2 linked regions of the Homo sapiens genome follow. Changing the gene in region 1 together with any one later gene gives a genetic interaction. Each region holds a gene or a part of one and is shown on either strand. Other genes may lie near its edges. The genes, in order: PPP1CB and SMARCB1.

Region 1 (4,124 bases):
CAAGTACCCATCTAGACCAAGGACTGACTTCCTCTATCAAATCAGGAAAAAACTGGCTACTGGTTATTTATACTTGAATAAGCCTTGAAATGGCTATTTAAAGCTGCTAGAAGCAGTGGCTGCTGCCTAAGGGTATCAATCTGTATCCAATCACAAATCCTAGAAGACTCCACTGGGAATCCCCATCTACCACACCACTGCTAAACCTACTGACATTTACAAACTATTTCTTCCCCTTGCCTCCCTATATGCCACCAACATTCGAGAATAACCTTTCAGAAATACATAACAGAATTTAAGTCAGTATTTCTAAGAATCTTAACATTCCTTCATACCTGTATTACTTTACCTGTTAGAAATGTTTGAAAATGGGGCTGGGTGCCTGTAATCCCAGAACTCTGAGACTGGCCTGGGCAACAAAGTAAGATTCTGTGTCTACCAATTTTTTTTAATTAGTGGTGCATGCCTGTGGTCCCAGCTACTTGTGAGGCTGAGGTAGAAGGATCACTTGAGCCCAGAAGGTTGAGGCTGCAGGTGAGCCATGTTCATGCCACTGCACTCCAACCGGGTGACAGAGCCAGACCCTGCCTCCAAAAAAAAAAAAAATTAATTAAAAAAAATTAAAAATGCATGGCATTGGAATGTATACTCTTTTAAAAGTAATAAACGTGGAGAATAAGGAAGAAAAAGACCTACTAGATGCAACTATCTTCCCCACTAATCCTGACTCTTAATGTGGCTTTGTCTCTAGACTCAATTTAAATAATGTATTAAATCCCAACGAATCTTCATCTTGGATTTAGATATTTACCAGAAAAGCTCCAGGTCTGCATTCAGATAGCAAAATAAAAACACCTCTGGGCTACTTCTTCAAACTGTCAGTTTCCCTTACTTGCTGAACTTAATTCAGAGAAAACAAACACCTAATCTCTGAATCAGTTAAAAAATATGCCACGACCTTATGTCTCCTCTAGTATCTCATCCAGAAGAATCAAGGAGATAAAATATTCCTCGGGTGATCTCCCCCACTCCCCAACATGCTCTTTTTTCTAACAAGTCTAGCTGCACATCCACACAAAACACCTTCCCTACAGAAGTGGAGGTTGTCGGCAACAACTGACACTTCTTTCCAACCACCTAACCTTTAGGTTGCTGGGTCAGAATTAAACAATTTAATCAGTAAAGAGGCCTTAAACAACCTGGCAGCTCATCAAAAAGTTAAACATAGGGCTACCATATGACCTAGAAATCTCACTCCCAGCTATATACCCAACGGAATTGAAAGTATATGCCCACAAAAAAAAACTTCTACACAAATGTTGATAGCAGCACTACAAGTATTCACAATAGCCGAAAGAAAACAAAATGTCCATCAACTGATGAATGAATTAAAAATGTGGTGTATACATACAATGGAATATTATTCAGCCATAAAAGGAATAAAGTACTGATACATACTACAACAAAGATGAATGTTAAAAACATTAAAAGAAACCAGTCACAAAAGACAACATATTGTATGATTTCACTTGCATGAAACGTCCAGAATAGGCAAATCTAAGAGACAAAAAAAAGTAGATTAGTGGGGGCCGGGAGGGAATGGAGAGAAATGGGGTGTCTGCTACCGGGAACAGGGTTTTTTGGGGGGTATATGTGTTTGAAAATATTATACAGTTCACTGTGGTGATGGCTGCACAACTCTATAGTATACTAAAAATCATATCCTCTAAATAGGCAAACTGTATGGTATGTGAATTATATCTGGATAAAGCTGTCATTTTAAAATGGAGGGCTTTAATATGCTTTCATTAATCGATTTCATTTTTCAAATCCATTCATTTTTTTTAACCTTCAAAAGGACACTACAGGCTGGGCGCAGCACCTCGCACCTGTAATCCCAACACTTTGGGAAGCCAAGGCTGGAGGATTGCTTGAGCACAAGGGTTCAAGACCAGACTGGGCAACCAACATAGGGAGACCCCGTCTCTACCAAAATAAAAAAAATTAGCCAGCCAAGGTGTCATGTGCCTGTGGTCCCATCCACTAGGGAGGTTGAGGCAGAAGGATCGATTGAGACCAGGAAGTCGAGGCTGCAGTGAGCCATGATCAAGCCACTGCATTCCAGCCTGTCTTGAATAGGAAAAGTTAAAAGTGTAGTCTGTCAGCCTAACTAAATCTTAAGAGTACTATACCTGTTTCACAAGAAAGAAAAGGGAGATACGCACTAAGAGATCACAAGCAGTGTCACAAATTCAGACATCTGACAGGTCAAAGTTAAATGAAAAATGAATTTAAAAAACAAAACAGGTACAAACACATCCCACGATTTTCATAAAACTGTAAGTGGGCCAAAAATGTAACACAATCACATTTTGCTATGGAACTTTACACAGTGCTAATATTCTACAACTCATATTGTAATAGTCAAGTTCAGCTTCGTGGTAATATGTTAAAAAATACTTTAAGAAAAACTTTTCTATCACACAGCAAATCGCTTTTCGGTATTTTTGAAGACATTTCAATGACAAGGGAAAATGTTCATGATGTAATACTACATGAAAAATTAACTCATAAAGCTATGTAAAGAATATTCTAATGATGTAAAGCATGTGAATTTTACAAAGTATGTTAAGTATCTTTAAACAAAAATATATCAAAATTTCAACAACGGTTATCTCTGGATTGTGGAATTACAGGGGACTTCTTGAAAGAATGCTGCCCTTTCATAATCAGGAAAAAGCAAATTCTAAACAGTTTCATATTATCACATATATGACACATAATAGACATACTATATCAACTGGCACATCCCAGTTTTTAAATACCTGGATCAAGACTGTGGTTGGGAACAGAGCTGGCACTCTTATTCACCCAGCAGCAGTTTTCCATACTAACCTCCTCCCAAATGCATTAGATTCTACTCATTCCACTTCACTTCCTCCAAAATAAACTTAGCACTTATAGTTTGAATGAAGTTCCCCAGATGATTCTGCTATACTCCCATTTCCCACCCCTCTTTGAGAACCACTCATCTAAGTAAGAAGCTTTTACCGGATTTTCCAGAATACTCATACAAACTAGCTTCAATTTAAATGATCAAAACACTATGGTAAGCCACAAGAATGTGGCCAACAGGGTCACTACAGGGGATAAAGTAGAAGTCTTTGGTTTTTAGTTCTAAGCAAAAGTTAATCCAAGAAAACATACCGAAAGAATATGCACCGTCCAAATAATAAAATCAATATTTCTGTTTTACATTAAATGGCATGTTTGTATTAAAATGACCTAAAGGACTCTTTGAAAATATCATATCAAGGTCAGGCGCGGTGGCACATGCCTGTAATCCCAGCACTTTGGGAGGCCGAGGCGGGTGGATCACTTGAGGATGGAAAGTTCGAGACCAGCCAGGCCAACATGGTGAAACTACTAAAAATACAAAATTAGCCGGGGCGTGGTGGCATGCTGTAGTCCCAGCTACTTGGGAAGCTGAGGCAGAATAATCGCTTGGACCTGCAGGGGCAGAGGTTGCAGTGAGCCAACATCACCCCACCGCACTCCAGCCTGGGTGACAAGCGCAAAACTCCGTCTCAAAAAAACAAAAAACAAAAAAAACTTATCAATAATACGCCCACCTAAAAAAGAAAAACAAAAAGCAACTCATAAAATGTAGTCACCAGAAGTGTGTATAGCTGATCTGCGATTTAATACAGTAAAAAAGAAAAAACAATCAGGAATATGTTGTGGGGCTACAATCAGCATTTTAAAATGAGATCAGGTCCTGCTGAATGTTTTCCCCTAATGCAGAGAAATTCTTGCCAAATTTTTACTTACACGTTCATTTGACACTAAAAACACTAACCATAGTTATTCTTGCTAGGCAGCTTTACAAAATATCACTAACTAGCATCTAATATCACTGAAAATCCAGGTGGACAAAATTTTCTTTGAAGATTAAAAATAATTATTTACTAGAAAATTCAAGTCTGCTCTGGACAAGTCTTTCAACAGGTCTGGATCTGGGAAGGAGCTGAAAAACCTAGAATATTTAAGAATCCCTTGGGGGCACTGTCAAACTAAATATGCTTCTGTAGGATGAAGAAGTACTGATAGAATGTGTGCTGAAC
Region 2 (3,641 bases), on another chromosome or scaffold:
AGGCTTTTAACAGGGTCACACTGGTGGCTAGAGTCGTGTATCCGTGATCTGTAACAGACAAACATCACTGGGTCACTCTGCTGGTGGCGGTGGCACACAGCAGCCAGCCAAGTGGATGCAGCACATCAAGGTCCTCGCATGCGGGAGGTGGGAAAAGCAAGGTGTCAAACTTACTACTGCTGAATGCTGGCCTCTTCCAAAAGGGCAATCTGGACTGAGTGCTTTACTTACAAGTCCTGCTGGGTAGAGCCTCCAATGGGACTGATTTGGACTAATCTGCCCCAGGAGCACTGGCTCGGGGCAGAGGGAAGTGCTCAGGGCAGCACCAGCAACTACAATACAGCACGACCAGCGGGGACACTCGACTCCAGAACATATTCTCTTGGTCCTCACTCAGGGGAAAAGAAAGCTCCCAGAGTAACACCCCAGTGGGAAGAGGTCTGACACCACCACAATCCACAACACGATGCAAGGTGGGGAGATGGAATGGAAGATGAAGAATACTTTTCTTTTAAAACAAGAGCCCAGAGAGTTGGAAAGAGCTGCTTCACACCAAACACGAATTTCTATCCCCGAGCCGGTCCACACGTGCTGCCTGGGAAGCAGGACAGATTCTAGGCAGCTCGACCCCTAGCTCTTCCGGGGAATCTCCGTCAAGAGCTACCTGTCTGTGGGCCCAGTCTGGCTTCTCCTGGAGAAATCAATCGCTTATGGGGAAGGTATCTCCCAAGACTTAGCCCAGGGACTTGCGGAGGGGGAAGCAAAGCTGGGGACTCACTGTGTTAGCGACTGATGCTCTGCTAGGGGAGGAGGGGGAACAAAAAGGAAACTGTTTTAAGCAAGTGAGTGGAAATGTCATAGCAGCAGATCAAAAAGAAGCTCCGGCTCCTGCATTAAAAGAACCACTACTTTCCCGCAGTGGACAAAACCACAGCAGCACCTACAGACACAAACAAACAGGGCAGACTACGAAGCATCGCGCACATGCTCACAGACACACCCAGGCCCAGGGCAGCTCTCTACAAGGCGCCATTGCCACGTGGGAAGCAGTTTTGCCACCTGCCCAAGGACATGCTGTGTCCACACCCAAATGTCTCCATGGGAGTGTCTCCCACAGAGCCCCCAGAGTGTCTGAAGAGCACCCTTTCACCCTGCACAGAGCTGCCGTGACCCAAAGCCCACTAGTTTCACTAGTGTACCTAGCAAGCCCCAGGCACACGCAGGCCACCAGGAGCAGGGACATGCACATGGGCTCTAGCACACTGGCTGCCAGGATGAAGTGCTATGGGATGGATGTGCTCCAGGAAGCAAGCAGTGAAAGCCCCAGAGGGGAGTGGGAGCTGGGACCACCACCCGCCACTTGGGCTGCATGGAAGATGATTATGGCGACACACCCACGACAGATGGCAGAGCATCGCAGCATTCCTAAAACGTTTTGAGACCAACATGTCTTCACAGCACCTGCTAGTGTCCTGGCCCCGGCCCGCTCACATACCCAATGGCCCTGCTGGAAATAACTGACAGTGGACCACCAATGGCTCCCTGGAGCCACTTCCTTGCCTGGAGTGCTCACAGGGCGGCCCACCCCGGGATGCTCCCTGCCCGACTAAGGCCAAGGCTGCAGTGAAGACACTCTGGAGTGAAAACGTTTTATCTTCATGACATAAGCGAGTGGTTTTGAAACAGGTTTACAAACCCTCGTGAAGACGCACCCTTAGTGTTAGGTTTTGTTTTTTTACCATGTGACGATGCAACTATTTTCTTCCTCTCTTCCACAGTGGCTAGTCGCCTCCAGAGTGAGGGGTATCTCTTGTACAGAGAACCTCGGAACATACGGAGGTAGTTTCCCACCTATGAGTAAAGCAAGAAGGCTCATTATAAGGGTCGCAGCACCACAGGGAAGGGGAGGGTCCTGGCGCAGACTGCATCAAGCAACAGACAAACAGGCCTTGAGGTGGCCCCCAGGCGCCACGCTTTCGGCAGCATTAAAACACATTCTGCTGATATGAAGGGTTCACCAGCAGTGCACATCTGGCCTGCATATGTGCATCCTGACAACAGAACCAAGTTCCGAAAGGCCTGGGCAGATGCCTGAGTGGGAGGCCCCCAGAGCTTAGCAAGAAGTTCGTGGTGATTTTGATTTTGGACTAAGGATCTCTGGCACTTTCCAGAAATGCAAGGCCTCCTTGACCTTCTTTTATCTTAAGGACAAGACTTTGATATCTTTACAATGTAATAAACACCAAAAAGGTCTTTTAATTTTAGACAGATGCCAGATAATTTCCCCCATGGCCTGTGTTGCTTTGTTTAGTAACAAAACCCAAACCAGGGATACCAAAGGAATTTTCCAAAAGGTTTACAAGGCAATCACCAGACTGCTATATAAATCATCACTGACTCAAACAATGGCTTCAGTTTGCTTGTAGCAAATACTGAAAGTGTGACTTCCTTAAGGAAAATAAATCTAGACCTAAAGTTTTTATGAGGGTACCCTATTGTCTCGTTGACTTTTCAAGTATGATCACTTCGGAGTCACATTGCAGGGGATGGCCAATAGACTGGGTGCCAGGTGCTGGCTCCATCTGTAACCTGGGATCACTTCCCATTTTCTGGGTACCCTTTACTCATCTGCCAAATGCTCAGCAACTCTGAACTTCACCCCCATGAAGGACCACTTCTATTATGTTTCCCATTTTATCTACGCAACATAGTATATATTTTGCATTTTTAAATTTATTTTTAATTTTTATTATTATTTTTGAGACAGGGTCTCGCTCTGTCACCCAGGCTCGATTGCAGTGGTGCGATCGATCATAGCTCACTGCAGCCTCGAACTCCTCGGCTCAAGCGATCCTCCTGCCTCAGCCTCCTGAGTAGCTGGGACTATAGTTGCTTGCCACCACAACCGGCTAATTTTTGTATTTTTTGTAGAGACGGAGTTTCACCATGTTGCCCAGGCTGGTCTCAAACTCCTGGGCTCAAGCGATCTGCCCACCTCGGCCTCCCAAAGTGCTGGGATTACGGGTGTGAGCCACATACCCGGCCTAATTAAAAAAAATAAAAATAAAAATCTGTAGAGACAAGAGTCTCACTATGTTGCCCAGGCTGGTCTTAAACTCCTGGGTTCAAGTGATTCTCCTGCCTGGGCCTCCCAAAGTGCTAGGATTATAGGTGTGAGACCCAGGCATAGTATTAAATAAAATGTTTCTCCATTTTCAGCAGTGACTGTAATCAACAACCAGGGCTACTGAACGCTGAGAGAAGAGCAGACACAGCAAGTCACTCGCTTTCCACATAGAGGGCACAGACCCCTCTATGTTATTTGGCTTGTGTGTCAGTATCATCCAGTATCATGGTAAATGTAGAGTTTCCATTAGGTTTTTTAAAAGAAATTGACAATACTCCCCCCTATGACTACCTTGCAGGCCCTGCAGGGCTCTGAGTCTCCTAGATGCCCCCCAAAGCCCCTTCAGAACTTAGGAAACTGGGCTTGCCTTCCTGGCTTTCCTCTGAACCAGCCTTCACCCTCTTGGGACCCAGGTTTCCTGAATATAAAATCAAGGTGCTGGACTTGGGGATCTGTTAGGGTCCTCAAAGCTCCATGACTCCGGCTTGGTAAATACAGCTGTCTGTTAATGGCA

The links.
Region 2: of PPP1CB (region 1) and SMARCB1, changing one enhances a phenotype caused by changing the other (phenotypic enhancement), as found in Homo sapiens cells (one study listed by BioGRID).

What each region holds. Positions count from the first base shown.
Region 1 is NC_000002.12:28,754,531-28,758,654, reverse strand, and holds part of PPP1CB (serine/threonine-protein phosphatase PP1-beta catalytic subunit), read right to left. Parts: intron 1-4,124. UniProt on the Homo sapiens protein: Protein phosphatase that associates with over 200 regulatory proteins to form highly specific holoenzymes which dephosphorylate hundreds of biological targets.
Region 2 is NC_000022.11:23,789,966-23,793,606, reverse strand, and holds part of SMARCB1 (SWI/SNF-related matrix-associated actin-dependent regulator of chromatin subfamily B member 1), read right to left. Parts: intron 1,852-3,641; coding exon 1,713-1,851; intron 49-1,712; coding exon 1-48.